Linked DNA regions of Homo sapiens: region 1 is linked to region 2. The links come from fine-mapping of genetic effects on gene expression. A gene starts in region 2. The other region holds a variant in brackets. All regions are shown on one strand. Distances are between the middles of the regions. Region 1 has its middle 29 kb from the start of ACVR1C. Region 2 holds the start of ACVR1C (activin A receptor type 1C).

What was found. PIP is the estimated chance that this variant, and not a neighbour inherited with it, causes the effect. A credible set is the group of variants that fine-mapping cannot tell apart.
Region 1: its variant is the best candidate, but not a certain one, in a credible set for the expression of ACVR1C in sun-exposed skin (GTEx, PIP 0.83).

What each region holds. Positions count from the first base shown.
Region 1 is chr2:157,656,695-157,659,499 of GRCh38, forward strand. No RefSeq gene overlaps it. Among named protein-coding and RNA genes, the nearest start is that of ACVR1C, 29 kb to the left of the region's middle. The variant T/C (reference allele first, on the strand shown) is at 1,304.
Region 2 is chr2:157,627,470-157,630,274 of GRCh38, forward strand. ACVR1C (activin A receptor type 1C) reads right to left here and starts at 1,395. Exons shown (of 9, transcript NM_145259.3): 1 at 1,103-1,395. The coding sequence starts at 1,175. RefSeq lists a silencer at 1,110-1,339.

The DNA.
Region 1 (2,805 bases), 29 kb after region 2:
CAACAAGGAATGCAGTGTTGGCATATTACATATTCATTGCCTTAATCATTACTTGATGAAAAAATAAGTAAATAAATAAATAAAGCCTTTTAAACCCACTCATAAAACAATGCAGCATGGTGGAGTGGCGGGAACAGCTTCTCTCTGTGAGTCTAGTTTCTTCATCCACAATTTGAGTGGAATAATGCCTATCCTACAAGGTATTGGTAAGGAGTTACTGAAACAACCTGTGCTGACACAGGACTTGGCCCATAGAAGATACTCTGAAGCTATTTGTGGAAATAGAATCATAGATACTTTTAAGTGAGCTAATAGACAAGGAAGGAGCATGAGTTTCACCCATTCACAGAGTTTATTTGGATCAGAACAGCTCGCTACAGAAGGAGGAGGTAAACTTCCCTCCATATGGAGAACATTTATAGATAGCCCCATTCCCTAGATATGTAGACTGCATTTATAACAGTGAAGGATTTTGACAAGAGCAACATGCAACAATCCAGAATTTTAAATCTGTATAATTGCCCCATTCACCCTGTGCTCCTGAGCTATGGGGCGTCAAGTCATTCAAGGGTAGTATGGAATACGGCTAAAATTTAGAATTGCAAATCTCCTTGGGTCAGCATATCCAGCACTTCCCAGCTGAGAGACTACTTCAATGAATCTACATAACCAGCTTCGTATTTCGAGGGCCTGAATATCCACTTTGGAACATTGAAGTCTCTTTTGTTTCTCTTTTTGTCTTTTAGACACAATTTTTATTTTAATTGATTCATTTGAAACTGCAACAGAGATATGGTAAAGTGAAATAAAGAAAATTTTCAAAACCAATCAAAGGTATTATTTATCAGCTATAGAAATGGTTTTAGTAAGGGCAGAAAAAGGTGACATGAAAACCATGGTTTTTAATCCATGGCCATCTCCTGTTACAGTTATGAATTGAGAGTGCATAGAACTATTATCCTCAGCTTCCAAATGATACAAAGTGTACTTTTACGTAAATTAATATGGTAATACATTTAGAGCATGTTTTCCTCTTTAATAAAGGAATCTGAGCCCAAGGTTAGTGAAATAAAAGACTTGAACAAAACAACAGCAACAAAAACAGACAAACAAAACCAACTTCTGTGTCTTCCTCACTGCAACAAAATGTTATAGTGATGGAGCTAATGAGGAGATTTATTAAATTTCCTAGGTGGACATACTGGGTCTGCCCATTTACAAAAGAGTACTCTGTGTCCTTGATTTTAGGTTTTATTTTGTATTATTTTGGAAGGGTAAACAAATCTCCTCCTCTAAAGAGGGA[T/C]ATCATGTGCTGCTGGAGACACTATCTGCCTTACCACGTAACTCACTTACAGAATATTTCACAGCCCTTGCTAGTAATCACATGGAAGCTTTGTTTGATGGCAAACACTATCACACTGTTCCAGGATTCTTACAGGGTTCCAGGAATTGTCCCCAGTGTAATGTCTCAAGAATAATAAAAAAATAGCCTTCTTCTGCATGACTTTTTTTAAAAAGTTAGAGCCACCAAAATAAATTATGAATAGCAAATGACAGCTTTTTAGAAATTCAACCAAGCCTCTCTTACTCAAAGCTCAGAAACAGTGAAGTGGACAGAGAGTGGGGGTATTTTTGTCGTTGCAATAAAATGGAGCACTGTGGTGTGTAATCAAACAGCCGCACCTTCTGACTAGCATCACTAATGCTCCACAGCCACTCCTAGGCTCAAAAAAGAAAAAAAAAACATGCTCAGAGTTGGCCTTCTTGGCAAAGTGCATGGCTGCCTAATGGTGTGATTTGAGGCATACTTAGAGTCCTTCCATCCTCCAAAATATTCACTTTGTCAGTTTCCATAGTCCTAAGATTCCATTACCAAGGCTTTATTTCTTGCAGTTAAGACATATAGCCTGTTAACGTAGTGATACTCCTGAAAACCATTAATGTTAGGCCACCATCCAAACTATTTGCATATCCTAGAAGCAATGTATTCTCAAGAGTGAGTTCTATTGGGGGTTCTCCTCAGTCTCCAAAGATACTTAGATCAGTGTTTCTCCAACATCGACATGCATATGAATCACCCGAGGATCTTATTAAAATACAGATTCTAATTTATTATGTTTGGGGATGGACCTAAGATTTCTGTATTCATAGTAAACTCCTTCAGTCTGATGCTGCTGGTCCACAGACCACACCTGGAGTAGCAAACTCCTAGACTCTTCCCAAGATCTCCTAGATAAGGACTCAAGACCAGGGCTCAGCAAGCTTTTATTATAAGGGGTCAGATAGTAAATATTTTGGTTTTGTAGGCCACAGGGTCTTTCTTGCAACCACTCAGCTCTGCCATTATAGCAAGAATGTATCCATGGACAGTATGAAAATGAATGGATATGCCTGTGTTCCAATAAACTTTATTTACAAAAATAGGCTGCAGGCTAGATTTTGTCCACAGGTCATGGTTTGCTAACCCCTGCTCTACCTATGCCTAATAAAGGTAAAGAAAAATACATTAGGAAGCCAAGAAAGCAATCAGGAAGAAACCTGGCTTTGAATATCTTTACAGAAAATTTGGAATCCCCTTCAAAAGCCAAAATTTTGTGCTCTAGACAGACAAGACATGAAAGGTGGAGGTGCAAGAGCACCAACCACTTACCCTACTTCACAATTTTACACATAACTTGCCTGTGCTCATCTTGGGCTTTCCCTAGGAATGGGAAAGGAACAAAGCAAGTTTATATTCTGTGAGTTCATACTCCAACAACTCGCCTTTTGTTAATACAGACAAAATCACACAATCTTTTTTTTCAT
Region 2 (2,805 bases):
GTATTTAGTGATTCTCTCAGGCCATCTGAAACACTGAAATCTGTACATGACAGCAATCATATCATTCAAATCATTCTCTTGCACATGTCACTAAGAGGAAAACGACCCACCATGAATATAGCTATTAATGTCAAACAGATTGTCATCTGGGAAAACAAAATGCATCAAAATCAGCTTCGGACAAAACACAGCTCTATGGGAAAACACCAGATTTTTATGTGCAAATGTCTTCAATGTCTGATAGAAATTTTTAAAGAATGAGTTAGCAAAGAATCTGCTCCTCCTCTGCATAATCCAGGACAATGTAATGAAAATAGTTTTCGAGGTAAAGGGCTTTTAGTCACAGCATATTATGATTTTACCAAAGATGCATTTGCCCCACTTTCTAGTAAACATTATAAAGAAACGTCTGGCTTCTAGATTGGGTAGAGGGCTCTATTTAGCCTATCAAGGCACAGACCTGTTATAAACTCTGGGGCGCTTGCCAGAATTTTTTTCCCCAGGAACTCTGAGTAAAGATCGTACCTCGAAAGCAATGTGCGTTGCAAACCACACAGATTTAAGCTCCCACTCTCGCCTCCATAGCTTGGCATCTGCGGCTTTTGGGGTATTCCCCGCCTCCTAAAACTCAGACTAAATCACCACCTCCCACCACCACCATGCCACCATCCTTGAGCAGCTCTCAGGGGCTTAGCACAGAGCGCGTCCGACGCATACCTGCAGCCCTCCAGGTCCCTGCAGGGTGAACCCAGCTCCCAGCCATGCGCGCACCCACAAACGCTCTCCTATTTTCTCCGCTGCAAACTGCCCACAAATTAGTCACCCACCTCACCCCTACTACTTATTCCCCCACGTCCCTGCTGCCTTTTCCCTCTTCCGGGCGGCTTCGTCCCCAACACACCTGTCTACCCCTACGGCTGCCAGACGTCAGGTGCCCACGCTGCACCCTATCCCGCGCCCCCTCAATCCGACTGGCGCTTCCCTGTCCGCCCCGAAGGTCAGTTTGCTCGGAGCACCCCCTGTCCCCCACCCCCGTGCTCACCCGCAGACCTCCTCCCAGCTCCCACCCTCGCGGGCGTCGGGAGAGAAACCAGCACCGTACCTGGCGAGAGCTCGGCGGCCGCTGCGAGCAGCAGGAGAGCCTGGCGGAGCGCTGAGCAGAGCGCCCGGGTCATCGCCACCAGGCGGCCGCGCCGGGGCTGCGAGGCCCCAGAGCAGAGCGAGGCAGCCGGGGCAGCACGGCCCGCTTTGAAGTTCCCGGGCCGCGGGAGGGGAGCGCGGCACCGACACCCTTTTGAAGTGCGCGGTTGGCTCTAGTCAGTGTGGGCGCCCCCCTCCCCGGCCGCCCCCATCCCACGCCCCCTGCGGCTGGCGGTGCGCGGCGCTCCTGCCACTGGCCCCGCAGCCGGGCGGGGAGCGGGTGGTGGGGCGGGCGGCAGAGCCCGCCCCTGCCGCGCCTCCGCCCCCTGCGCCCTCTCGCAGCCGCCCGGGCCTGCTGCTGCAGGGCAGGCAGGCAAAGGCGGCCCTGTGCCCGGCAGTGAGATCGCCCAGAGCTGGGGCGAAGAAAGAGGGGGCGTGGGGAAGCAGTGCGGAGCCTCCGGGACTAGATACTCAGGAATGGGGCTTCTCACGGGAGGAAAAGCCCCACTGAGACTTTAGGGAAACTTCAACTACGCGGCGATTGCGCCCAGGTGATCCGCTCTATAACCTCCCGCAGAAGAGCCAGCCTCCTAGCTCTCCTGACGTTTGTTGTCCAGGGTCCTTAAGTCCAACCAGGTTGCGCTGTGAGAGCCCCGCGGGCTTCCTACTGGCTTGTCCCACCCCTGCGTCCTGGCCATTTGTGCCTCTGGGGAAGGGCGCCCTCTCTGTTCATCCCTGGAAATGACCAGTTGTCCGACTGCCTTCTGGACCTATAAGCTTTGGTTTAACAAACTTCATCTCTTCTTGGGTGCCTTTTGGGAACCCTTCCCTCTATGAATGGCGACCAAAGCTGGACCACCTGCGCCAGGTGATGTGGCCATCTACAATGTGTGACCCACGTCTGGTGGTAAAAGACCTCACCTATGGAAGATAATTTCGGCAGCTACAACTTCAGCAATTGAAGAACTAAGGGAACATACACACACACACACACACACACACACACACACACACACACACACGGATTAAGGGAAGGGGAAGAATTGTTTAAAGTAGTATATGAAAAACTTGTTTGAGTATTGTTTAATCCCTAGAGGCTAACTGTCAAACGGGTGCCTGAAAATATAAGGCCTGGATTGTGCCTGAAAATATAAGGACAACGGCAACATTACCAATTTATAGAAATTAAATTCAATTCACCTATGGAGCCTGAACATTAAAGTGAATGGGATTATTTCAATCTGAACAACGCGAAAAAGCAAGAATACAATACTGGTGTTATTACTACTGTTGGGGGTTCCTTGAAAAGTGATAGCGTCATAAAAATTGCTTTAGAGTAAAACATTTCTTGCTTCTTCACCTAGCTCAGGACTAAATTATATGCTAGGTGTTCTAAGTTCTATGAAAGACCTATGGTGAAATGTTGTATGTAATTGACTTTATTATCAAAGGATCACAGTATGGGAGATGAGATGGTTGTTGGACTTTGAGATGTGGGTGGCATCCTGAGGATCTTTTCTGCCACCATCTTATATTCCTAAGCACAAAAAAACTTTGTTCTTGTTTTATCCTGGATCCAAACAAACAAAAAACTGGAGATGTGGGACAAATCTGAGCCCTTTCAGACACCCACAAAACAGATGCTTTTTTAAAAAGGCAAGAAAC